Homo sapiens: one gene and its partners. The protein of the gene in region 1 purifies or fractionates together with the protein of each later gene. This does not show direct contact. Each region holds a gene or a part of one and is shown in the gene's direction. Other genes may lie near its edges. The genes, in order: TXNDC2, SLC25A15, VPS54 and SLC25A31.

Evidence for each region.
Region 2: the proteins of TXNDC2 (region 1) and SLC25A15 purify together in Homo sapiens (affinity purification with mass spectrometry; one large-scale study listed by BioGRID and IntAct). This does not show direct contact.
Region 3: the proteins of TXNDC2 (region 1) and VPS54 purify together in Homo sapiens (affinity purification with mass spectrometry; one large-scale study listed by BioGRID and IntAct). This does not show direct contact.
Region 4: the proteins of TXNDC2 (region 1) and SLC25A31 purify together in Homo sapiens (affinity purification with mass spectrometry; one large-scale study listed by BioGRID and IntAct). This does not show direct contact.

Annotation. Positions count from the first base shown.
Region 1 is NC_000018.10:9,882,730-9,891,754, forward strand, and holds TXNDC2 (thioredoxin domain-containing protein 2), read left to right. Parts: upstream 1-3,243; 5' UTR 3,244-3,351; exon of another isoform or gene 3,352-3,445; coding exon of another isoform or gene 3,446-3,554; intron 3,555-3,859; coding exon of another isoform or gene 3,860-3,951; coding exon 3,952-5,412; 3' UTR 5,413-6,546; downstream 6,547-9,025. UniProt on the Homo sapiens protein: Probably plays a regulatory role in sperm development. May participate in regulation of fibrous sheath (FS) assembly by supporting the formation of disulfide bonds during sperm tail morphogenesis.
Region 2 is NC_000013.11:40,800,021-40,807,060, forward strand, and holds part of SLC25A15 (mitochondrial ornithine transporter 1), read left to right. Parts: exon of another isoform or gene 1-704; intron 705-5,097; coding exon 5,098-5,235; intron 5,236-7,040.
Region 3 is NC_000002.12:64,007,390-64,015,722, reverse strand, and holds part of VPS54 (vacuolar protein sorting-associated protein 54), read left to right. Parts: intron 1-3,268; exon of another isoform or gene 3,269-8,333. UniProt on the Homo sapiens protein: Acts as a component of the GARP complex that is involved in retrograde transport from early and late endosomes to the trans-Golgi network (TGN).
Region 4 is NC_000004.12:127,733,400-127,736,899, forward strand, and holds part of SLC25A31 (ADP/ATP translocase 4), read left to right. Parts: intron 1-3,500. UniProt on the Homo sapiens protein: ADP:ATP antiporter that mediates import of ADP into the mitochondrial matrix for ATP synthesis, and export of ATP out to fuel the cell.

The DNA of each region.
Region 1 (9,025 bases):
GCCCAAATAATCCTAGGCCTAAAATAGCTGGTTGTTTCTGTTTCCTGAGACACAACCTGAGTGACATAAGGGCTCATGAGCTATTTGGGAATGAGCTTCTGCTGAAGGAAAACATACATTTTATGACAAGTCAGTGGAAGAATTAATATTTCAAGTTGCTTGGAATTCATCTGAATTGCAGAAGGAAGAGTAAAAATATCAGGAACAAGTGCCAAACCTAAAACACAACGAAGATCTCCAAGTATAAATGTAACAGGATCACAGATTTCCTCTCTTTTACTAAGACATTCAGGTACAATATCACTTATACATTTCTCTAGAATGGCTCATCCTTCCCATGAGCCTTATCTCAATGGGTTTTGGGGTGGGATGGTGAGGAGCAGGGAAACCGAATTAAGTTTGCCTGTTTGTGGAATTTTGGCTCAAAGAACCCTTTTCCATGGTGTAGCGGTGCAATCTTTCAGAGTTCTCACTTTGTCCATAGTGTCTGGATGCCCAGGGCTACACGGATAAACGTGCCGGGTGCTCTGGTCCCGTGCTGGTTTCCCATGTGAATTGGCTGGTCTGGCCTGGTCCCCAGCCTGAGATCTCTTGAAGGACCCACTGATTCCATTTAGGACAGGGGCATCGTGATGTTACTCACTGCTGGAGTCTGTGATTCCAGTCCTTGCCTCTGGTCACAGATCCTCCTCCTCTGAGTCTTCTTCCTCTAGGCCTCTATCTTTCACCAGTCTCAGAGCACTCCCAGCCACTCTCTGAGGTGTACATCGTTGCTAGATCTTTAACCTCCTCCCTGCAGGCTGTGGGGCCTGCCCCAGGTCCACACATCCATTCTTACCCTCTACTAGGGGCCACGCTGCACGAGGACAGTGCTGTGTTGGATGTGAAGTCCACGTGGGCTCATCCTGGCCTTCCAAGTGGAGCAGGAGGCAGATGCCCCTCTGCTTTCAGCTGCAAGTCTTTTTTTATCTTTTTTTTTTTTCTTTTTTTGAGAGAGTCTTGCTCTGTTGCTCAGGCTAGAGTGCAGTGGCACCATCTCCGCTCACTGCAACCTCTGCTTCCCAGGTTCAAGCGATTCTCCTGCCTCAGCCTCCTGAGTAGCTGGGATTACAGACATTTGTCACCACATCCGGCTAACTTTCGTATTTTTAGTAGAGATCTAAAATCGCATTTTTAGTAGAGTAGCACATCTGATTAGTATCTGTGCTGGCAATCAACCTGGAGAAAGGAGGCCGGGACACAGGCATCTGTCCTCTTGCCTCCACATCTACTGGGATGGCAGGAGTGATGTTTTCACTTCTGCCTCTCAGCGATGGAGTTCCTCTGTGTCCTCATCCACTCCCTTCCAAACAGCAGGGACCCTGTACAAGATAGGGTCCCAGGAAGTAAATTAACTTACCAATGAGCAAGGGCCAAAGATGCTGCCCACTTTGTGCTAATAAAATCTGCTCATGATGGTTTCTGCAAATGATGCCTATCCTCCCCGCTTCACCTCCTTTCTCCTAACACTAAGAAAGAAGACATTGCCCAGATAAGTGCCTGACGTTTATTTTCATCCTCTGCTTTAAAATAGGGCACCATGAAAAACAGTCCTGTCAGCTGTGGAAGCCGTTGGCATTGGAGAGTGAAGACAACCTCCCGTCCTTTAAAATATCACATAAGAAAGGCCCAAAGTCTCCCAGTGAGAGAGGGAAGAGCTTTCTTTGGCAGTAACCGAGGAAACGGAGTGGAAGCATGAGCTCTTCCTGGAACAGGATTCATATCATCAAGAACTACGGATTTGCTGGGCCAGGCATGGTGGCTCACGCCTGTAATCCCAGCAATTTGGGAGGCTGAGGCAGGTGGATCGTTTGAGGTCAGGAGTTAGAGACCAGCCTTGCTAACATGGTGAAACCCTGTCTCGACTAAAAAAAATACAAAAATTAGCCGGGTGTGGTGGTGAATGCCTGTAATCCCAGCTACTCGAGAGGGTGAGGCAAGAGAATTGCTTGAACCTGGGAGATAGAGGTTGCAGTGAGTCGAGATTGTGCCACTGCACTCCAGCCTCGGTGACAGGGCAAGACTGTCTCAAAGAAAAAAAAAAAAGGAACTATGGATTTGCTAAGGCCAATAGTCTCTCTACCCCTTAGTAAAATGTGTTTTGGTATAAAAATCCAGATAATTGAACCATTGCCATTAGATGTTTCGAGGTTTCTATTGACAATGTGGAGGTCTTATCATTTAGATTTCAACACTTTTATTTTTAGTTTTTAGAGACGGGGCCTTGCTCTGTTGCCCAGGCTAGAGTACGATGTAGTGATCACGGCTCACTGCAGTCTTGAACTCACTGGCTCAAGCAAGCCTCCCACCTCAGCTTCCCAAGTAGCTGGGACAGGCGTGTGCCACTGTGCCTGGCTAGGTTTTGTATTTTTTGTAGAGATGGGGTCTTGCTATGTTGCCTAGGCTGATCTCAAACTCCTGGGCTCAAGAAATCCTCCCACCTTGGCCTCCCAAAGTACTGAGATCACGGTGTGAGCCACCATGCCTGACCACTTTCAACACTTATATTGTTGGGGTGAAACTGAAACATATGAGGATTTGTTCAAAGTACATGTAGAGAAGGCAAAATTCCACACTGATTCTTCCTGCCTTGGACTGGATGTGTTGTGCAGAGTGAGGGTGGAAAATGAGCCAGTGGTCCTGAACTAATAAAATAAGTCTCCCTGGGGGACAGGTATTTGGCTTCCCATTCCACAGGATGGGGTAGATGTGGCTTATGGAACCAGGATTATTCACAAAGAGGTTGTTCTCCTGTATGTAAAGGCTGGAAGAGCCGTGTACTTGGATGTGTCTGCATGGGGGAGGGCACAGGCTGGGCTGGTGCGCCTGGGAGGTGGGGGAGGTGGGGAAAGAGGCTGTCTAGCAGGAGCTGAACATTTGACATTGTGGGACACTTTGCAGAGGAGGCTAACATGGTTTCGAGGAGATACTTAGGAGCTGGTCACAATGGGTGAGTCGTAAAGAGAATGTTGGAGCTGGGGGATCCTGGAGAAAGATGATAAGATGGTTGATTCACAGAACCCAGGCTGGACGGGACTTGTGGCGAGCAGTCCAGCACAGCCTCACAGTGCAGAGCATGAGCTTTGGAGCCTGCCCCCACCCTAGCTTTGTGACCTTAAGTGAGCTACATAGCTTCTCATGTGTAAACTACTCATCATAATGGTTCTGACCTCAGTGGTTTGTTGTGTTCTAGGAAATGATGCCAGTGAATGCGTAGTCCCAGCCTCAGCACAGGGGAGCCACCTTGAAGCTCTCAAATATCACTGTTGTGAATACAGAGAGGGAAAACCAACTGTAACGTGCCACCCAAATGTAAGTTTTACTCATATTTTGATGTTAGGATGGATAGCTTGGAAAAAGTTGGAGGGTACGGCCTTTACTATGAGGCATCTATGAAGGATCAGGAATGGATGTAGACAAGGAACTAGGAATGGAAAGTGTTAAAGCTGGAGCCTCTGGAAAACCAGAAATGAGGCTGGGCACTCAGGAAGAAACAAGTGAAGGTGATGCTAATGGTAAGTAGGGGAGGAAAGAGGGTTGCCTTAAAGACCTATGCAGTTAGGGAGCGGGCAGGGTGTTGAACCAAGAAGGGAAAGTTGTAGCTTAAGAACATGTATACAGAAGATACGTGTAACCACACGCTGTTTGTCCTTCTGCTGAATGAGTTTTTCAGATTAATACATCATTCATCAGACTTCATTCGTGATCTCGAAGAGTGACATCAGTCTTCCTTGGAATATGAAGAGAATTTCTTTGGTTCTTCTTTTGCATTTCTATTTGATTTATTTTATTTTATTTTATTTTATGTTTTTTGGTACAGAAAGCTCATTACTAGTCCTGTCCAGCAACGTGCCTCTCCTGGCCCTAGAGTTCTTGGAAATAGCCCAGGCCAAAGAGAAGGCCTTTCTCCCCATGGTCAGCCACACGTTCCACATGCGCACAGAGGAGTCTGATGCCTCACAGGAGGGCGATGACCTACCCAAGTCCTCAGCAAACACCAGCCATCCCAAGCAGGATGACAGCCCCAAGTCCTCAGAAGAAACCATCCAGCCCAAGGAGGGTGACATCCCCAAGGCCCCAGAAGAAACCATCCAATCCAAGAAGGAGGACCTCCCCAAGTCCTCAGAAAAAGCCATCCAGCCCAAAGAGAGTAACATCCCCAAGTCCTCAGCAAAACCCATCCAGCCCAAGCTGGGCAATATTCCCAAGGCCTCAGTGAAGCCCAGCCAGCCCAAGGAGGGTGACATCCCCAAGGCCCCAGAAGAAACCATCCAATCCAAGAAGGAGGACCTCCCCAAGTCCTCAGAAGAAGCCATCCAGCCCAAAGAGGGTGACATCCCCAAGTCCTCAGCAAAACCCATCCAGCCCAAGCTGGGCAATATTGCCAAGACCTCAGTGAAGCCCAGCCAGCCCAAGGAGAGTGATATCCCCAAGTCCCCAGAAGAAACCATCCAGCCCAAGGAGGGTGACATCCCCAAGTCCTCAGCAAAGCCCATCCAGCCCAAGCTGGGCAATATTCCCAAGGCCTCAGTGAAGCCCAGCCAGCCCAAGGAGGGTGACATCTCCAAGTCCCCAGAAGAAGCCATCCAGCCCAAGGAGGGTGACCTCCCCAAGTCCCTAGAGGAAGCCATCCAGCCCAAGGAGGGTGACATCCCCAAGTCCCCAGAAGAAGCCATCCAGCCCAAGGAGGGTGACATCCCCAAGTCCCTAGAGGAAGCCATCCAGCCTAAGGAGGGTGACATCCCCAAGTCCCCAGAAGAAACCATCCAGCCCAAGAAGGGTGACATCCCCAAGTCCCCAGAAGAAGCCATCCAGCCCAAGGAGGGTGACATTCCCAAGTCTCCAAAACAAGCCATCCAGCCCAAGGAGGGTGACATTCCCAAGTCCCTAGAGGAAGCCATCCCACCCAAGGAGATTGACATCCCCAAGTCCCCAGAAGAAACCATCCAGCCCAAGGAGGATGACAGCCCCAAGTCCCTAGAAGAAGCCACCCCATCCAAGGAGGGTGACATCCTAAAGCCTGAAGAAGAAACAATGGAGTTCCCGGAGGGGGACAAGGTGAAAGTGATCCTGAGCAAGGAGGACTTTGAGGCATCACTGAAGGAGGCCGGGGAGAGGCTGGTGGCTGTGGACTTCTCGGCCACGTGGTGTGGGCCCTGCAGGACCATCAGACCATTCTTCCATGCCCTGTCTGTGAAGCATGAGGATGTGGTGTTCCTGGAGGTGGACGCTGACAACTGTGAGGAGGTGGTGAGAGAGTGCGCCATCATGTGTGTCCCAACCTTTCAGTTTTATAAAAAAGAAGAAAAGGTGGATGAACTTTGCGGCGCCCTTAAGGAAAAACTTGAAGCAGTCATTGCAGAATTAAAGTAAACATGTATTCTGAAAACATTGCAGACAGTCAGGTGTTTATAGCTTTTGAGTTCTCTTTTATTATTTACACAAAGTGATCAGGTATAACAAAAGTGTATGTCCAAATGGCACTGCTTGTACATGATAATATTAACTCTACCCTTTTCAAAAAACAGTCCAAGCATTAAAGTACATTGCGACTGTGTTTCTGTTAGTGGGAGAGTATAAAATTAGAAATTCCCATGGTGAAGACTGCTAAGTCCCATGGTTTCCTATTTTTCAATCTTGATATGTATTTATTTTTCACTTGTCTTTGAAAATTTCACGCATTTAGTGTTTGCAGCAAGACTGAAAATTTAGATAATTTTTCTATAGAGGTAGATGACTGAAAGGTGAATGGAAACTTCTTTTCTCATGTCACACATCTTTGGGGATTCTGATAAGATATGTTTGGAAATAAGGAATTTGAAAGATTCACATCTTAGCTAACCTCCTTCTTGTGCCGGAAGTGCTACGGAGGCCTTGGGAAATTCAGTGGGTTTTCCAAGATCTGATTTGTTGGTGACGGAAATGAGATCAAGGCCGCTTCCAGATTTCAAGTCCAGGGCTCTACCTACTATAATCTACGCTCACAAAATCTCAGACAAGAGGTCGGAACTTCAGGTTTCTCGGAGGTTGAAGTCCTCTGGATCTTTGCTGCCTTTATGACATCAGTGCCCTGATGGCAGAGTTCCTGGTTCGTCTCCCTGGTAATTGAGTTCATAATACCTAGACCTTCCTCTGACTTTTTTACTTAAATTTGTTCTTATTTTCAATATTGAACAAGCCAGCCTTTAACATGACTCTACCAGCTTAGACATATAGGCCTAGACTTTAATGAATTAACCTAATCACAGTGCTACCAGAGTCTTGTTTGGACAACTTAGTGAGCCCCAGATGTCTATGAGCCCAAAGTCCCAGGTCTGAACCATAGACAGAGGCTTAGTCCAGAGTGGGTTTTTAAAAATGAATAAAACCAGCTTCATTAGGTATAATTGATATACAAAGAACAGCACATATTTAATGGAGGGAGTTGGATGAGTTTGGATGTGTTGCATATGCCCTTGATTGCCATCTCCACCATCAAAGTAATTAACACCTTCATTGCCTCCAGAAGTTTCCTTGTGTCACTGTGCTTTATTGTTATTACTATCATGGTAAAAGCACTTAACAGATCTACTCTCCTAACACATTTTTAAGTGCCCAGTACTGTACTGTTAACTAGGGGCATGATGCCGCACAGCAGATCTGTGGAACTTACTCATCGGTGTGGCTGAAATTTAACACCCATCGAACAACTCCCCGTTGCCCCTTCCCCCACCCTCTGGCAGTCACCATTCTACTTTTTGCTGGTCCAGAGTGTTTTTAAAAATTTGAATTTGTTGCCAACATTTCAAATATCAGGATTTAAAAAAAAAATCTAGATGTCTAGCTTTTCTTGAAAAATTGTAAGATCTGGCAATCCAGGCTTGCCTTACCTCAAGAAAACCAATCTAACCTTCGGGTCTGAGCGGCAGCTGCCTCCATCTGATAGGGCGCACTCTCTCCAGTCTTCTGCTGCAGAACCTGGCTGGCTTCTTCACTTAGCCAGCTGAGTTGCAATCCCTATCTTAAGTTCAAGACTGGGACTGGGCGCGGTGGCTCACACCTGTAATCCCAGCACTTTGGGAGGCCAAGGTGGGTGGATCACCTGAGGTCAGGAGTTCGAGATCAACCTGGCCAACATGGTGAAACCCTGTCTCTACTAAAAATACAAAAGTTAGCCGGGTGTGGTGGCAGGTACCTGTAATCCTAGCTACTCAGGAGGCTGAGGAGGCAGGAGAATCACTTGAACCGGGGAGGCAGAGGTTGCAGTGAGCTGAGATCGTGCCCCTGCACTCCAGCCTAGGTGATAGAGTGAGACTGTGTCTCAAAAAAAAAAAAAAAAAAAAAGAGGACCAAGACTGCCCCATCTCCTTCCATCATGTGCCTATCGTGACTCTCCTTAGTGGTACCTCAGTTATAGGCTTCATTTGCACCCTTAACAATGGCCTAACAACTGCAAACAAAATGAAATACCTTATATGCTTGGCCTTTTTTCCAAAAAAATTTGGAATTGCCTACAAAAGGATTAATGATAAAGCTAACGAACCAGAAAGAGGAATCAGAGCCATGAAGTGAGTAACGTGTCAACTCTGTGGGCTCGTATCATGGCTCTGTTAGAGCAGCAAATTTTGTTCTGAACTCTTGGCAAGTGAGAGAGAAGAGATAAATTCAATAATACCCAGATGTCATCACCCAAAATAAGCAGGCTTAGGAATTTGCAAAAGAGTCAAAGCTTTTCCTTAACTAAATTCCTGAATGACATTTCTCATCTTGGACACTACATTTGAGACTTCGATGATAAACGAAGTTCTTGACAAGATTTTTCTATAATAAATTCAGGACAGTTTTTCATGTGGATATTCTTGGTAAGACTCTTCAGTAAAAGCTGAAGCCATAATGGCAAAGGGCTTTTCAACGAGAGGATTCTAGATTCAGGTGTACTGCATTTTCATAGAAATGGGCTTTTAGTGACAGTGCATATATCCACCTGTTATTTCCCTCTGATAGAGAGACCTTCTTCTGACTTTTTCAATCAAATTTGTTCTTATTTTCCATAATGAACAAGGTTAGCTTCAACATGACTCTACCAGCCTAGACATATAGGCCTAGACTTTAACCAGTTAACCCAAACATTGTGCTACCAGAGTCCTGTTTAGATAACTTAGTGAGCCTCACAACACTTTTAAATTAATTTTGAGACATATTCTCACTCTGTTGCCCATGCTGGAGTGCAGTGGCATGACCATAGTTCACTATGGTCTTAGGCTCAAGTGATCCTCCTGCCTCAGCCTCCCAAGTAGCTGAGACTACAGATAAAGCCACCACGCTTGGTTAATTTAAAAATATATATTTTTTTGTAGAGTTGGCATCTTGCCATGTTGCCCAGGCTGGTCTCAGACTCCTAATCTCAAGAGATCCTCCCACCCAGACCTCCCAAAGTGCTGAGATTACAGGCATGAGCCACTGTACCCAGCCTCCCACAACACTTTAGACTGTGCAATTTTAAGGACCAGGGCCCCTGAAATCTAACATCAGTGACTTATACTAACTGCTTTTTCTGGTACCATAATATTAAAGACATTTCTGTCAAAGGTCCCTTTTTATATTTAGGTTACTAAGTAATGTCATTGACAATGACCTCAAAATATCCTTAAAAATTATTGTGATAGTAGATTCTTAAGATGATTTAATAGCATTCTTAACATAAGTCAAAGGAGGAGGCAAAGCGAAGTTCTATGAAGGCATTCTGTAGGGCCAAGAAAAAGCAACGCAAAGGTGTGGCTCTCTGATGATCTAGTTTGATCCAGGGATAAAATCTAAACTAGCAGATAATCAATTTATGCCCTTCAAATTACCCATTGTGAGAACCACTTCTTTTGACTGTTTGGATAATAGTTGAACAGCAGCCAGGTCAAAGTTATGTTCTCTGGCAGAAGGCTTGAGTATGGACATTTTCTTTTTCTGAGTAAGAAAGATGCATGCACTTAATAAAAAATCAACCAAGCGGGGA
Region 2 (7,040 bases), on another chromosome or scaffold:
CTGGGATGTTTAGCTATCCCTGCTTTGAATGTTGATTTATTTTATACCACTTAAAATTATTATATAAGCTTCAAGATTGCAAAGGGCAGTCTTAGTTATTTCAGTAGGAGTTTGAAACCTGATTGCAGCTGCAGGTCCCACACAACTGAATTCGGTTTCTTGTGCACAGCACTGTTCTCTGGAGGTGCCTGGAGGTCTGAAGGTGTGCCCTTTTATAGACAGGAATTCCACCATGATGGGTAGAGCTTGTTTTTTAAAAAGGCTTGGGACTAGATACGATTGCCCAAGAAGACAGTGTAGACAGCGAGGAGGGCTGAGCATGAATGGGATGAGCCTCCAGCACAGAAAGGGCAGGCAGGAAGGCAGTAAAGAAACAAGCAGGGCACAAACCAGGAGAGTATGGCATGCCATGATGGAGACTGAACAGAAGCAAAAACTACAGGCAACTGTAGTTTTGTTCCCTGTTGAAGGAGAGACACTCTATTAGAGAAGACCTGGAATTCAGTTCAGTTTCCTTAGCAAAGGACAAAATGGGGAGAGAAGACAGGGAAACAGTAAGCAGCCACGTGAGATTCTGGGGAAGACCTGTGTCTTCTGAGCAAAGTAGCCCCTCCAGCCACAGGATAGACAGTGACTTCTGTCTTGCATGAGTGAAACCACTGGATCTGGCTCTGCCCGCCCCTCCACTTTCTTGCTTCCTTAGCCTGTGAACAAAGTGAAGGACAGGTAAGAGCATATTGCTTTTCTGCTGAGAACAATCTAATACCTTACAGCTGCATTTTCCCACACTGCTTTCAGAACATTGAATTGCTGGGTGTCCTTAAGAAAGGGTTGGGAAATTACGTCACAGTGTCTCTCTCGTGAAGAATCACTCTGGGTACATTTATTTCATATAGTGTATGTGTTATTTAGTTCATTAAAGATGCGTAAGGCTGGGCACAGTGGCTCACGCCTGTAGTCCCAGCACTTTGAGAGGCTGAGGTGGGCAGATTACTTGAGCCCAGGAGTTTGAGACCAACCTGAGCAACATGGCAAAACCCCGTCACTACAAAAAATACAAAACTTAGCTGAGTGTGGTAGCACATGTCTGTGGTCCCAGCTACCAGGGAGGCTGAGGTGGGAGGATTGCTTGAGCTCAGGAGGCAGAGGTTGCAGTGAGATGATGCCACTGCACTCCAGCCTGGGCAACAGAGCGAGACTGTGTCTCTCAAAAAAAAAAAAAAAAGAAAAGAAAAGAAACCATCCTGATTAACCTTGTCTAATCCAGCACTCATCTTTTTTGAGCTTGGGCCCGTTTTTTTTTTCCATCCTGAGGAACAGTGTTTGCCTCTTACCTGTTGGGGAAATGCTCTCTTAGAGTCTACAAAGCTCTGACATGTATATCATGTCTCTATAGCCCTCACCGTGATCCTGTGAGAAGAGCAAGGCAGATGTTACCTCTCTTAGGGATGGAAAACTGAGGTGCCGATGTTGACCTGCTCAAGGTCACCCCGCTAAGGACTTGAAATTGTGTCCTCTGAGCTCCTGCCCAGTCTCCTTTCCATCAGACCACAGTTGGGGGTCTGGAATATTTTATAAGGGTCAGTTCTAGAGAGAAGATTAATCAGGAGCAGTGAAAGGAAAGAACTGCTTGTGAGAGCCTGTGGTGAATTTCTGCAATCACATTGTAAATATTTGTCTGTTCCCGGTTTCAACATGACCCAGAATGTTCTAGTTTGACGTTTGGCTGGACAGGGTCTTACATAGCAGGAGTGCTCAGGTACATGTTTGTTGAACATATGACAAATGGATGATTCTTACAAAATCCCATCCTATACCTATTACTGTTTCAATTCCAGTTCTACACATTCATACTACATGCAGAACCAGGGGCCCATGCACCTCCTTCTGTGCACTGGTCAATGAAAGTATTTATTGGAAAGCCAAAGTCCACTGCATATCTGATTTGACTGTGTCCTTGCACTATAATAATGTGCTTGGTGTTCATTCAGATGTCTGAGCCATTATTATATCTTAAACTCAATAGACTTCTACATTTATTGACTGCCACCTTTGTCCTGGCAAACTTGGCAGATCCTGGTTAATGCTCCTAATTGACTATTGCCTGTCAACAGGTTAACAGAGAGTCCCTGAGGGAGGCCAACTGTGGATCTGCAGGCTGGCTGCAAGACAACAGAAACCATTTTAAGCTTCAGTTCTAACAAGCTGCTAAGGAGTGAAGTGGGGGAAAGGAGTGGACTGAACAGCATTGGATGGTTTCCACACCCCATAAAAGCGTGTGCAAGTACATTTGTGTACCTGGTTCTCCTTTGCTAATGGTTTTAGGCTTAATTCTCTAACATCAAAAGGAAGTCCTTACTGCAAACAGTGTCTTCCTACTGAAAGAAAGCTCCACTCTAAGCCAAGTCTTCTGAAAGAGTTGCCTCTGGCCATGGTACAGAAGCTAGACCACCAGGGACTAGCAAACCAGGGCCAAGACTGGTGCCACCTTGATTTTATACTAATCTTTAACACTGGAAAAACTTGAGTACCCCTGAATATGGTAAGTCCATCTGTGCTTTTTTTTTTTTTTTGAGACGGAGTCTCACTCTGTCGCCCAGGCTGGAGTGCAGTGGCGCAATCTTAACTCATTGCAACCTCGCCTCCCCAGTTCAAGCAATTCTCCTGCCTCAGCCTCCCGAGTAGCTGGGACTACAGGCGCCCACCACCATGCCCAGCTAATTTTTGTATTTTAGTAGAGATGGGGTTTCACCATGTTGGCCAGGATGGTCTTGATCTCTTGACCTCGTGATCTGCCCACCTCGGCCTCCCAAAGTGCTGGGATTACAGGTGTGAGCCACCGTGCCCTGCCCCATCTGTGCTTTTGCTCACAGTTTGGAGAAAAATTGTTAGGGGATTATATCTCTACCTGAGTAGTTAGCTGAGGAGATTCCCACCCACCCTTAGGGGTTTTTGGAAATCTCTGAGGGTGATCTTGGCTGTCCAGTGAGAGCATGATGCTGGCATTGAATGGGTGTCAGGGAACCAGTTCAGTCCTTCCTGCCCAATGAAGGATTGTCCTACCCCCAAATGCCAGTCATGATCCCATGACACAACACTCTTCTAGGGCTGGAAGGGATCTTCTATCCCAACTCCCATGAACCAGGAACTCGCAGAGAAGCCTTTCTTCTGAAACACTTCTCAGACTTTTCCCCGTATTCGTTTTTTTTTTTTTGAAAGAGTCTCACTGTGTCACCCAGGCTGGAGTGCAGTGGCATGATCTTGGCTCACTGCAACCTCTGCCTCCCTGGTTCAAGCGCTTCTTGTGCCTCAGCCACCAGAGTAGCTGGGATTACAGGCGTGCACCACCAGGCATGGCTAATTTTTAGTAGAGACGGGGTTTTGCCATGTTGGCCAGGCCTCAACTGATCTGCCTGCCTTGGCCTCCCAAAGTGCTGGAATTACAGGTATGAGCCACCACGCCTGGCCTCCCCATATTCTTGAACTCTTACTGGATTCCAGTTTCACAACCCTGCTGGTGACATTTGGCTGCTGGTACTAAATCCATACATGAGGTGAATGCTTCTGTTTTGTATTTGTGCATTCATCCCTCTGCCTAGTTTAGATTTCCAGTTTAGCAATTTCACCTAATACCATTGAGCTTGCAGACTTGTACTGGCTTCACCCACTCCTGTGGCACCATTTTACCCTCGTCTGTGTTGCTGAGGTGGTAGGTCACCAGTTGAACTGGAAAATCTTTTTGTGATGCAGCAACTTTTGGTTAAACGTTTTTTCTGGGTTTTCATCTGTGGCAGTTACATTGCACATCTGGTTGCTCCAGGTTGGATTGTGGGCATGTGGGGATAGGCTTAGAACCTAGATTTATTTAAAACTTAGGGCAGACACACTGAAGTATTAATAGTGCATGTTTTTCAGTGGGGGACTATGGGCAATATTTTCCTCCTTTCCTTTAGGTTTTTTTGTGGCGTTTTATTTTGTCATGTCACGATGTATCTTGGCTTTGGCTGTTGTAACAGAATACTACAGATTGAGTGGCTTAAACAAACATTTCTCACAGTTCTATGGTCTGAAAAGTCTAATATCAAGGTTCCAGCAGATCTGGTGTCTGATGAGGGCTTGTTCTTAATTTGAACATAGCCGTCTTCTCACTGTGTCCTCATATGGCAGAGAGTGAGCGAGCTCTCTGGCCTCTTCTTCTAAGGGACTAATCCCATCACAATGGCCCTATCCTCATGACCTCATCTACACCTGATTACTCCCAAAGGCCCCATCTCCTAACACCATCACCTTGGGGGGATAAAATTCAGTCCATAGCGCTGTGTGTAATCAAAAGAATATGGTTGTTGCAGTCAGGAAGACCTGGGTTCACATCCTAGCACTGCCACTTAGTAGCTGTGTGACTGGCCACATTATGTCATCTCTAAGTGTCACTTCCCATAGGGAACTGGGGTGCTGCTGTCTGCTTCATAGGGTTGTGGGATCCTTAGATGAAACAGCACATGCAAGTTTCCTTCCTTTCATCATTTTTTTTTTTTTTTTGAGACGGAGTCTCACTCTGTTGCCCAGGCTAGAGTACAGTGGCACAATCTCAGGTCACTGCAAGCTCTGCCTCCTGGGTTCACGCCATTCTCCTGCCTCAGCCTCCTGAGTAGCTGGGACTACAGGCACCCACCACTACGCCCGGCTAATTTTTTTTTTTTTTTGTATTTTTAGTAGAGACAGGGTTTCACCATGTTAGCCAGGATGGTCTCGATCTCCTGACTTCGTGATCCGCCCGCCTCGGCCTCCCAGAGTGCTGGGATTACAGTTGTGAGCCACGGCGCCCGGCCCTTTCATCATTTTTTTAGACATGGAGGTCTCTCTTTGTTTCCCAAGCTGGAATGCAGTGGCTGTTCACAGATGCAGTCATAGCACTGTAGCCTAGAACACATGGGCTCAAGTGATCCTCCCACCTCAGTCTCCTAAGTAGCTGTAATCACAGGTTCATGCCCTCACGCCCGGCTCCTTACCCTGCTTTATCACCAAAGTGCTGTCTGTGTGGTGAGTGCCAAAGGAATGAAGAAACTGAGGGGTAACTGTCTGCTTGTGTGCTTTCAGTGATCTGCAGAATGCAGCCGCCGGTTCCTTCGCCTCTGCCTTTGCTGCACTGGTGCTCTGCCCCACGGAGCTCGTGAAGTGCCGGCTGCAGACCATGTATGAGATGGAGACATCAGGGAAGATAGCCAAGAGCCAGAAGTAAGCACCACTTGGGCACAAACGTCAGGTCTCTATTGCCCTAGTGTATTGGATGATTTTTCATTTTACATTGTACTAAAGTGGCAGATGTGGAAGCCAATTTATCTACTCCAAAATATTGTTTCTAGAATGCTTTCCCCTATCAGAGATTTTCTGAAAGGATTGGCTGTGATGGGACCCACCACCCACTGCATAAAAAGTCTTAGACAGATATTTAATACCCCAGAACTGGAGAAGCCAGGAGCTTAACACCCTTTTTGGCCTCTTGGAAACATAAGGCATGATCTTCAGCCATTTTTGGAGGTACATAATGGGTGGCTTTTGAACTTTGCCTTAGACCTGAGCCTTCATAAGTGCCAATTTGGATTCTGAGATGAATATTTGATCCCCACTTCAGGTTTCGTATGGGTATTCAGGCTGATTGACCCAGATCCTAGAGGTAACTATTCTTACCCCACTTATCCCCAGTCCTTCAAGTGTACCTGCAGATGGCCCAAGTTCTGAGAACATTAATCAATACTTTTATAAGCATAGCTACTCTTCAGTGATTAAATCACTCTCTAGCTCACTCTTGAAAACACATTCTCATTATCCTTTGAGAGTACTGTTTCATACACAATTTGATTTACTTGAATTGGAAAGCAATTTATTATCCTTATTAATTGCAAAACTTGCTTACTTATCTTGACATCTGGCTGAGTTCTGACCAAGGATATTGCTGTGGTTAACTCAAAGCCTATAAATCTGCTGGGAAAAAGCAGTAGATAAATTGACCATTTTCAAGGATCAGTCCCCACTCAGTGAGAATGGGGTTTGGAAAAGTGCCCTATTTTCTGCACCCTTGAGATTCATTACAGCCAACTTGAATCTAATATTCATTGCCTAGAAGTCCAAGAGTGTAAGTCTTTAAAACTTTTTATTGAAATAATACACATAGTATCATGAATGCACATTGAAGTCACAGTATGCAGCTCTATAAATAGTGACACAATTTATGTGCCTTTGTAACCTGTGTCCAGATTAACAAATAGAACATTAACAACACCCAGAAAGCTGCCCTCATGTTCCTTGGAAGTAATTCAAGGTAATTAAAAGATAGTAATAGTTATATCCAAAGGACTTAGGCAGATCAACACCTTGAATTATCAGTTGACTTTGTATTTGAGGTCTAGCAGTGTTCACACAAGGCATGGTATGGTAGCTTGGGGCTAAGACTCGGATTGGAAGGGAGGTTAATTGTGTTGAGCTGGATTACTTTGTTACATTCCATGTAGCAGTGCTGCAGGAAGGGCTGGCTGATGGGGAATACCTGACAGTGTCTTCTGAAGCTCTCAGAAGGAAAATAGTTTTTAAATGTCTGTGGCCTTTATTACCTTGGGACTTGATCCTTCATCTGTCCAAGCCAAGTCTCCTTCTTGCTGAGAACAAAGTGAGGAGAGAGGGATTCACTAAGTTGCACTGAGTATGTGATTTCTTGGCCTGTTCTTAGCAGGGATAAACCTGCCCTGGTTGCCCTCAATCATGAAGGGGAGTCAGACAAAGAGTGTCCTGTGTTCTGGCTGCTACAGGAGCAGGGCTGCTTAGAAGAAATTCTCCCGCATCCCTGGTGCTCTGAGAAATAAATTCTTGGTGCTTCTGCATAACAGGAGCTATATAACTTGTTCTCAGAATTTGTCTTGTCTTCAGACAACATTTACTCCTTCACTCATTTCTCTGCACTAAAAACAGATCCTGTAAACACCTGAACAAATTTCCCAAAAACACACCAGAAAGATTGAGGAAATAGGAATCACAGCGATAAGGGA
Region 3 (8,333 bases), on another chromosome or scaffold:
GGAGGTTTCCTTTTTCAAATATCCAGTGCCCTAACATCTAAAACAATGGCTCTGCGAGGACGGTTTTGACTCCAAGGGAAATTTGGCAGTGTCTAGAGACATTTTTGGTTGTCATAGCTGAAGGAAATGGTATTGGCCAAGGATGTTGCTAAATACCCTACAATGCACAGGACATACTTCTGCAAGAAATTATCCGGTTCAAAATGTCAATGGTACCATTGTAAACCTAGGGGCTGCACGATTTCTGGTAAGGACCTAGTGTTTTTGATTCCTACCAGGTGGGAGAATAGTCTCAGTGGGCGATGTTTGGTGAATTAGATTAACACCTTAGATCCTCTAGCAACTAACTCTATTTCTTTGCAAGAGGAGGAATTGAGGGAAAAATAAAAGGAAATCTGTTTACGACATGACGCAGATACTGTTTCGTATGTTTAGGTTGTCTTCAAATCTGAAAAAAGAACCCCTTTTTTTCTAAAAACAGACTTAATTTACTGCAAATTTGGACTACTATTGTTTTGAATTGTTATTTTTGCATATGTTTTTGAAATTGTAAATAGAATATAGTCATATCTTTTTTATCCAGAAGTGATTTTTTTTTTTCCTGGCAGCTTCAACTACCAAGAAAGGAGAAGTAAGCTAAGTGTTTAACTTTATGGATAACACTTATGTTATATATGTATGTATAACACTTATGTTATGTATGTATGTATGTATGTTGTGAATGTCCAGAAAAATTCCAAGCTTATAATGAATCTTTTTTTCCCCTATGAGCTCCACTTTAGACTATTTAATGTTTTTAACAAGCTTAATTTGTTGATGAAAGAAGGTAATTGACAGTTGAGATCACTTTTGCTATTTATCATCCATACCTTATGGATAAGTTACTCAAGTTATTCTTTCTGAGCCTCAGTTTTCTCATCTATAAAATAGGGGTAGTGATAATCCATGTATTACAAGGCTATTGTAAGAATTATTAAATGAGGTAATATGTATTAAGATGCAGTGTCAACTATAATATACTGTAGAAGAGTTATTCGCTTCAGAAGAATCAAATTAGGAAGGAATATAGAGGTTGTCAAAGGCAGGAATGTAGATAGTAAGGCGGAGAATAGTGATGGCTGACAGCCTCTCTAGGGAGGAGAGAAGCACTAAATACAAATATTGATAACAAACTAGTAAAATAACTAGTATATCACTATAATCTGAAACTCCTTAATATAGGGGCAAACTGACTTCCTTCTGTAGCACCTGAGAGTATCACCGTTATAGCACAGTAAAATAACTGATTATTATAATGGTGAAATTAACTTATTAAGAAAAGATTACCTTGTTTTCAAATATGCTATTTGAGAAGACTTGAAAATATATATATTTTACTTCAGAGTTAAAATTTTTGGAAGTGACTTATTCAAAAAGTTTTAGTGTTTTTAAGAGTATGCTGTCGTTATTTGGATTAATTCCCTTTTGGGGAATAATCCTTTTGTCTTCATTTACTATGCCTGCCTTCCTGTGTATTTGAAGGGTTTTTCTATTATCTGAAGGTAATTATTCTTCAGATGTGAGAATTTAACTGAAGAAATAGGGGTTGTAAGCCTGCTCACCATTTGTAAAATCTCATTTCCTTCTAGATTTCTTTTAAAATTATTTTTCATCTTTCTGGCGTGTCACTACGCCCAGCAAATTTTTGTATTTTAAGTGGAGACAGGGTTTCGCCATGTTGGTCAGACTGGTCTCGAACTCCTGACCTTGTGATCTACCTGCCTCGGCCTTCCAAAGTGTTGGGATTACAGGTGTGAGCCACCGCGCCTGGCTGGTTTCTTAAAATTTTGTTAACTGGTCACCTTTCTTTCAGAATCATATAAAAATAAGGGTAGAGGTGGTCAAAGGCCCAGCTATTCAGTAAGATTTTTATGGGGTAATTTGAGGGTGGAATAGTTGCAGACAATATTCAGAATAAGTAATGTGGTATTGATTGGTATTATATATGATATATATATATCTCTCTATATGATATATATATCTCTATATATGTGATATATATCAATATATAGATATATATATCAATATATATCTATATATTGATATATATTTATATATAAATGCTGATATATATCATATGATATATATTGATATATATTTATATATAAATGCTGATATATATATCATATATATATATCAGCATTTACTTAATAACATTATTTGATGTATACTCTATACTTAAATCTTCCCATTTGTCCCAAAAATCTTTATAGCTTTTTCCCCCCTCAAATGCAGGATTCATTCAAGGTTAATGCATTGCATTTGGCTGGTATGTCTCTTTAAGTCTCCCCCAATCTGGACTAGTCCTACCGCCTTCCTCTCTTCTTTAGGTTTATCCATTGAGAAGTAGAGACCATATGTCCTGGAGCATGTTCCACATTCTGAATTGGTCTGTTCCTCATGATTAGATTCTAGTCAGACATTTCTGGTGAGACCATCACACAGATGATGTGTATTTCTGCTGTATTACATCAGGAGGCACATGATTTCAGGCTATCACTATATCGGTAATGCAAGTTTGATCACTTGGTAAAGGTGAACTGACAGATCTCTCTACTGTTTAATAAATAATTTATAGAGGATACTTAATAGCCATGTAAATATCCTATTCCCTGACAACCCTTTAACCAGTGATTTTGGTACCCATTAATGATCCTTGCTTGAATCAGTCATTATGTTGGAGGATTACAAATGGTAACTTTTCTTTTTGCATTCCTTCTACTTTTATTACCTTCTTTGACTTTTTCAGGGCATTGAGGTCAGGTTAGATAAATTCTGAATATAGGCCACGGAATGTAGAAATCAGGTCATTCCTAACCTTTTCTGGAGCCAAGTAAATGGTGAAGATGGAAGACAGCTAAGGAAGTAGACCAAAAAGAGAACGGAGGTTTGCCAATGAAGGGGAGGTGAGAAGTAGTAGCTGGAGGAGGCAGGGAGGAGGGAAAGGGCCTTCATTTGGTGCTTGAAATTTTCTTTTCTTTTTTTTTTTTTTGATGGGCCGATGAAGAGATTAAAGATAGAATTGGGGAATAACTAATAGAAAAAGGTCCCAGATGAAGCAGGAAGAGGTAAGATCAAAAACAGCTGTTGGGGGATTAACTCTGGAAAAGAGTAGACACCTATACTCTATCTCAGAAAGTTAAGAGTTGTGTATAGATGAGAATTAGGTACATTTGGATATGAACGGAAAAAACTACATCTGGGGACTTTTTTTTTTTTTTTTTTTTTAAACAGTTACTTTTTGAGCCTTGCGTTGTTGGAAGTAGGCTAGGGGACTTGAGGAGAGTGATGAAAATGTTCCACATATTGTGGGGAATGGAGAAGAGAAGTGTTTCAAGATAAATAAGTGAAAGAATTGCTGAGCAGCATCAGAGGCTCATCTGAGATTGGAACTCATAAATTTGTAATCAGCATATTTTACTGTTTTTTCTGGCAGTGTTCTGCAAGCAGGAGAAAAGCAAAGACACACTGTATTGAAGGTGGATGAGGGAGGAGAGATGCAAGGGAGATGAAGTAATGGGGATGTAGGCTAAGTAATGAAGTTAGTAAAGTAGAGCAGGGCTAAGATAGCCAACCAGTGGTGAGAGATGCAAGGGTAATGCCAAGGAGTGATTAATTAAAATACTAATTTATTGTTTGTTTGAGGTTATAGTAATCATAAACCCTGTATTTACTTTTCCCTTAAACTAACATTTAATATTTTTATTTGTAAACTATTTACTGACTTATTGCAGATGTTTCTTAGCTATTTTGCTTTATTTTCCCTAAAATGAAAATTCCTTGAAAGCATCATCTTTGTTACTTAATAAGTATCTAATAGTTTATATATTTGAGACATATTTATTCTTCAGTACCTCTGAATGAGAGATTTTAAGATTATCTTGCTAATATTTTTGGCTGGGACACCAAGAAGAGAATACCAGTGTCTAATATGGTTCATTTTGACTGACAAAAATTTCACTAGTAATACAATCGTATCAGTGGCCCAAAGGAGTAAGAAAGCATCCAAGCTATTTTTTGTTGTTGTTGGAATTTTTACATGCTAGAGACAGATTTTATCTTAGTATAGTTTATTCATATTCCAGGCCTGTGACCCTTAATCAATTTTTTTTTTCTTTTGAGATGGAGTCTGGCTCTGTTGCTAAGCTGGAGTGCAGTGGTATAATCACGGCTCACTGCAACCTCCCCGTTCTGTGTTCAAGCGATTGCTCTGCCTCAGCCTCCCGAGTAGCTGGGACTACAGGCGTGCACCACCATGCCCGGCTAACTTTTTGTATTTTAGTAGAGACAGGGTTTTACCATGTTGGCCATGATGGTCTGGATATCCTGTCCTTGTGACCTGCCTGCCTCAGCCTCCCAAAGTGCTGGGATTACAGGCATGAGCCACCGTGCCCGGCCTCCCCTTAATTTTAATGGCTGCTATAATGTTATAATTCTCTGAGTGCTGGGGAAAAAAAGACATTGCTTTTATTTGGAATAATATCTAGACTTAAAAAGTATATATTTTATGAGGATATTTATGATTTTTCTTCCTGATAAAGATATCACATGAAATAGCATTTGTTTTATAAGCCATTTAAAAATATTTAAATTTAACATTACAAATTGTTATAATTTTTATCCTCCTAGTCAATATTATTTCTTATTGTTTCTTGTCACTAAATAAAAAGTAAATAAGCAACTTTAGGAAGCGCATGCATTCAGAGTTTCCTGCAAAGCACAGGGTTTCATAAATGCCATATGAGGATGTAAAGAAAAAGAAAATTAGATTACTACAACTTTGTTCTTATTTTCTGGGTTCCTTAAGCCTCTTCCATACTTCTTTAATGCTCAAGAGGACTATAGAAGTACTTATTTATATGACAGCCCCAATGTTAGTATTTCTTGAGATTATGTTTAAATTGTACCTTCAATATTGAGATTTTTGTGAGCAATAATATGTGATACGCATTTTAAAAAAATTTAAAGATTTTTAAAAATTATGATTAAACTAGATTTTGTCAAATGATAAATAGTGTAGAAGTATATTGCTATTTGTGTATAGGTAGTATGAAAAACTTACATTTGCCAGAAATTGGCTTTTACATTTCAAAAATGTTGTGGAAAGTACTTCTTAGAACATGAGATATTTGATGTATTTTGTAGGCAAACAGCAAGAAACCAACTGAAGGATGAGATTAAATAGGAACAAGAAAAGGTGGTGGAGAAAGGAGGGGGCAGAGTTTTTACTATGGTAACATAAACTCCTGAGTTCTGTCAAACTGATCTTTGGTAGGACATTACAGTGTGGTTAAGTTTTTCTTGCATATTATCAGTACTTGTAAATTTGGAGAAATGAAATTTGAGATTTTTTTGTTTGCTTTTAAAAAAACAGCAGTCAGTTGTGGACTTTTAAAAAAATTAGGTCCAAAATTGTATCAAAATTATGTCAAAAAAGCTCTGTCCAGCTCCAGTGTTAAAAAGAAATTCCACTTTATCCATGTTTTCTCAAATTATAAATAGACTTTTTTTAAAAAAGTTCATTTATAAGTCAATTATATGGGGCCAGGCGCGGTGGCTCACGCCTGTAATGCCAGCACTTTGGGAGGCCGAGGTGGGCGAATCACCTGAGGTCGGGAGTTTGAGACCAGTCTGGCCAACATGGTGAAACTTCGTCTCTACTGAAAATACGAAAATTAGGCAGGCAAGGTGACAGGCGTTTGTAGTCCCATTTTCTTGGGAGGCTGAGGTAGGAGAATCAGTTGAATCCAGAAGCAGGAAGTTGCAGTGAGCCGAGATCACGCCACTGCACTCCAGCCTGAGTGACAGAGCGAGACTGTCTCAAAAAAAAAAAAAAGGGTCAATTATATGGAATTCAGAAGTTGTTGTTGTTGAAATGGCCTCTCTCCACTGCCTTGGTCAGAGTGCAGTGATGCCATCACAGCTCACTGCAGCCTCAACTTCTTGGGCTCAAACTTTCTTGAAAGTGCTAAAATGATGCGCCAAAGTAGTATATTTATCCCACGTTACAGGTGCACAATTACTCCTTTGGTAAGAAAAATGCAGTAAATTACACTGATGAAAATGTAGGCTGGGCATGGTGGCTCACGCCTGTAATCCCAGCACTTTGGGAGGCTGAGGCAGGCGGATCACCTGAGGTCAGGAGTTTGAGACCAGCCTGGGCAACATGGTGAAACCCTGTCTATACTAAAAATACAAAGATTAGCCGGGTGTGGTGCTGGGTGCCAGTAGTCTTAGCTACTCAGGAGGCTGAGGCAGGAGAATCGCTTGAACCCGGGAGGCGGAGGTTGTTATGAACTGAGATCTTGCCACTGTACTCCAGTCTAGGCGACACAGCGAGACTCCATCTCAAAAAAAAAGAAAAGAAAATGTATAGTATCTTTTTTCTTTTGGAATAGTCCTGGTCTTATAAAATTGTCACAATTAGATGTTAATTATTTCTATCATTCAATAGAAGATGAACATAAGTAACAGTTATGAGAGTAAATAATTATTGATTCAGTCATTGATCTGATAAGGAGACAAAGACAGAAGAGGAAAGCACCAGGAGCCTGAAATGGGTGGGAAGGAGTAGTGACATAATTTAAAATTTTTTTATTGGTGCAGAGACAGAGGCATGAAACTTAGAATCAGAAAATCTGAATTCAGATTCCCTCTTCACAGTTAACTCACTGAATGGTCTGAAATCAAGTTACTCTAGAACTTGTTTCTTCATTCATATAATGGAGATCGTTGATTCATTGATTCATTCAGAAATATTTTTCTTACTAGGTTATTTTGAAGATGAACAAAAACATCTGAAAGTAAGCTATTATGAACTGTATAGTGTTCACTGTATTTGACTGTATAGTCAGATATTAGTGATGATGCAATTCTTCTTGTCTTTCCATTTCATTCTTCCCTGTCATCCTTCCTTCTTTCATTGATAGCGTATTTTTACATGCTCTTGATCTAGCGCTTCACAGAACCTTCAGAGCCTGCAGTCCCAGCTGATTTCCACTCCTCCTCCCACTCACACATTGGGCACAGGAGTAGGGTGTGAGGCAACTTTTCTAGGTCAGCCTGCTTATTTTCTCACTGTTGACTGACAAAGTCCTGTCTTTCTCAAGGTGTGACATAAACCTGAGGTGCCTTTTAGTCCCTGGGCTTGATATTCTTTCTTTCTCACTTTGCCTCTCCTTTTCCCATCCCCTCTCGCCCCATTCCTGTGTGTATGTAACTCTGACCATCTCCTTTCTCCACCACTTACTTGTTCCTTTTTTTTTTTTTTGAGACGGAGTCGCGCTCTGTCACCCAGGCTGGAGTTCAATGGCATGATCTTGGCTCATTGCAACCTCTGCCTCCCAGGTCCAAGCGATTCTTGTGCCTCAACCTTCTGAGTAGCTGGGATTACAGGTGCATGCCACCATGCCCGGCTAATTTTTCGTATTTTTTGTAGAGATGGGGTTTCACCACGTTGGCTAGGCTGATCTTGAACTCCTGACCTCAGGTGATCTAACCACCTCGTCCTCCCAAAGTGCTGGAATTACAGACATGAGCCACTGCGCCCGGCCTCTTGTTCCTCTTTAATCTCACCCTTCAATTGGCTTCTTGCTGTTTGCCTACAAATATGGTCAGGTCTCCGATAGCCTAAAAGATTCTTGCTCAACTCTTGTTCTTTTTTTTTTTTTCCTTTTACCACCAAAGAGATGTTGATATTGTTGCCTTTATTACTTCATCACTTACCTCTTAACCTCAGTGGGATTGCTTCTTCCCTAACCACTGTCCTGAAACTGTTCTTAATCCAGTATCCTTTCTAAAGTTAGTAATCTCCTTGATCTCTTTGCAGCATGTTGATGCTACTTACTGTTCGCACTTTACTTCCTGACACATCTTCCCTGTGTAAGGATGGTATTTCTGATTGCCTTTGTCTTTTCCTCTAAACATATTTGCCCTACCCCTTCTTCAGAGCTTTCATTAGCTCTCTTCTTCGGCACTTTCTCCATTTGTAATATCACTTTCCTGTGACTATCTGTAGTTATCTACTAATTCATTCCTGTAATGTAATTGAACTAGAAGCAGTAATGGAAAATTCAGGGAAGCAGGATTCTGTTCACTACAAGAATATTTTTTCTCCAAAGTAATTATGGTTGTTTTACAGTAGTACTCTGCTTTTAAAGTAGTTAATTCTTCATTATTGAAGTTTTCAAGTAGAGGCAAAAAGACACCTTGTAGAAAGGATTTATATATGAAGTAGAAAGTCAAGCCAGATATTCTTTTAAAGTCTTGTCCAACTCAAAAATTGTAATTTTTAT
Region 4 (3,500 bases), on another chromosome or scaffold:
TGCCCATGATGTCAGTGCTCAAAAAGTTTCAGATTTGGAGAATTTTGGATTTTTGGATTAGTGATGCTCAACCTGTGTCATCTGTATTTGTAGCTATTGAATCTATGATGATTGTATGTATACTTGTACACATATTTATTTGACGTATTTCAAAATGTCAATATGCAGTTAATTACAACTGAATCGTTATAAGTAGAGGCAAGCTTGACTATTATATTTTTGGTATGGTCATGACCTACCAACTTCCTTATTTTAAAACATAAATTTCTTGCAATTTGCCTTCTCTTTCTTTTTTGAAAGTCAAGACACATGCACATCTCAGGTGTCCTGAAGATTGTTTTTATGTTTTCTCTAATTTTATTCACAACTTTTCCTTTCTTTAGGCCATGTGAAATGAGCTGGAGAAAGAGATATGAACACAGAATGCACAACTAGATGCTCTCTAGTTTCTTACCTTATCTCTACTTTCTTTCCATTACAAGAATAGATCTCTGCATTCTTGCCTTGAATATAGCTTTAAATATCACTTTGAGTGTTTCTGACACTTTTTATAAGCTTTTCTTGGCTTATGAAAGCTTCTGGATTTATCCTTATGTTGTTCTTAAAGATTTATTATATTCTTTAGTTGGTTTTATCACCTGCCAACTTTGTATGTGTACTTTTATTTAACACTGTTTAAACCTTTATTATGCAAATAATGCATAATTATTGTAGAAAATTAGAAAATATAAAGAAGCAAAAAGTAACATCACTGCTAAAGTCACCACAATTAACATTTTGGTTTTTCACTGAGCAAAATATACATATGTAAATATGTGTTTAATCAAAGGAACTGTCTTATTAGTATATTGTAAATGTAGCCTTTTAAAGAACTGATTTTCTGGGTGTGGTGGCTCATGCCTGTAATGCCAGCACTTTGGGAGGCAGAGGTGGGCAGATCACTTGAGGCCAGGAGTTCAAGACCAGCCTGGCCAACATGGTGAAACCCCGTCTCTACTAAAAATACAAAAATTAGCTGGGCATGGTGGCGCACGCCTATAGTCCCAGCTACCTGGGAAGCTGAAACACAAGAATCACTTGAACCTGGGAAGCACAGGCTTCAGTGAGCCAAGATCGTGCCACTACACTCCATCCTGGGTACAGAGGAAGACTGTCTCAAAAAAAAAAAAAAAAAAAAAAAAAAGATCCGTACAGTCTCATTTTTACAAGCCTATCCAAACTCTTCTCTTTTAGGAGTTCCGTGTCACGAGTTTATCAGCTTTCATCTAAGCTTTTCCCAAACCCATTTTTCTGAAGACTTAGAACAGTGAGGTTTTTTAATATCCTAGGGTCCATCTTGAAGATGCTATTTTGGGGTATGGGAAGAAAATATTAGGTATTTTATTTATATGTACTTTAAGTAAAATACAAAAATAAATTTTACTGATATTTAATATATAAATTGGCATTGTCCCCTATGCTTGGGCCCAATGTCAGTTACATATCACGGGACATTAAGGGATCCTGAAAAAAAGAGTGGGAGTTACACAAGGTAGAGGGAATGACAAGCACCCTTCCTCAATAATATATTATTGTTTATGTTTGCCCAATTAACTGGATTTATAGATTCTATTATCAGGTTTTAACTAAATCCTCAAAACATGGACAAAACTTTGAAAAAGATTCTGCCGTGAAAACCAAATCAAGGGTAACACCAATATCAAATGATGAACCACAAGAAAAAGCTGATGCCATTTACTCCAAGAAATGGCGTATTATTTCATCATTCACATGACATTCAGTGTAGAAACAATGACAGTCTAATTGGACCTGAGACAAGAAGACTATTTGAAATATAGATTCCTATATACTATTCTTAAAAATGAACTTCACCCTAACAGTGCCTTGAGATAATAGTAAATGGTGGTGTGAAAGCATCATAATTAGCAAGATGTTTGAAAATATTGTTTTTCATCTTTTAAATAAATGTTTAACTTTGCTCTAATATCATCTAACATTCAAGTTTCCCTAACAACCCTATCTAAATAGCCTTTTATTATTCCCAATCTTCATATATTGTTTTTTTGTTTACAGTTTTTTATTGCTAACAGACATAGTTATTTGCTACCTGTCTCCCTGGTCCCTCCCTCTTAAGATGTAAGCTCCATAAGATCAGGAACATTGTTCCTAGTGCTGTCCCCAGTAGGCACAAAATGTCTGCTGTGGAGGAGGTACCAAATAAAAGTTTTTAAATGAAAAATCTTTATCTCATTCTTTAATTTATATTTTGAGTATGTTTTACAGATGTACATAATATGGTAGTATAGTTGCAAAGGTATATAATTTATTAATGTATACTATTTGGAAGTCATGCAGACTTTTTTTTTAATTGATAGGCATATCATCAAAACATGTTGAACCTCCCCTGCAAAAAAAAAAAAAAAATGTTGGTTTAGACTGTATATCCAAACATGCCTAACATTCTTTTATTTTATTTATTTATTTATTTATTTATTTATTTTTTTTTTTGAGACGGAGTCTCGCTCTGTCGCCCAGGCTGGAGTGCAGTGGCGCGATCTCGGCTCACTGCAAGCTCCGTCTCCCGGGTTCACGCCATTCTCCTGCCTCAGCCTCCCGAGTAGCTGGGACTACAGGCGCCCGCTACCACGCCCGGCTAATTTTTTGTATTTTTAGTAGAGACGGGGTTTCACCTTGTTAGCCAGGATGGTCTCGATCTCCTGACCTCGTGATCCGCCCGCCTCGGCCTCCCAAAGTGCTGGGATTACAGGCGTGAATGCCTAACATTCTTGTTCTTGGCAAGGCCAGCCAATAAATGGCCCAGTAACTTTTTCCTGTCACTTTTATTTCAATTCTTATTTATTTGTTCAAAATTAGGTTCAGAGCAGGTTTTTCTCATCCTTCTTAAATTTTGAAGAAATTTTTTTCTTAGGAATTAGAAACTTAAACTTTTATTTATTTATTTTACTTTTAATGGAGAAAGAGGTCACCATCACTATATTTTTCTCTACCAATTTTGTGATATATATTAAGAAACCATCCATTTATTCTGTATGACTAGAGAGTCAAAACGTTCCTGCCATTGTATCACTTCTGCTTTAACCTTGTTTTATTCTAACCAAAAAATACTGTTTTATCCAGAATGGATTTTTATATAGAGGCAATAGAAGTGCAGTAACTCTAGACCTCGAGTCGAATGGACCTAGAACCAAGTCTCAGCCTTTCCTATATCTTGTAACTTTGAACAGTTTTTATTTAACCTTTCTCAGCCCCAGTTCCCTCAGTGGTATACTGGTATAATAACTATACCTATCTGATACGGTAGTTGTGAGGATTAAAGAAGATAATGCATGTAAAATATTCAACATGTGTCTACACCATAGTTAGTGCTCAAGTAATTGTTACTAATGTGTATGTGTGTGTTCCTGAATTTATAAACATGTACTCCAGATGTTCATTTGTAAATGAAATAATTTGGGATAAACTTGCATTATGCATAGAGT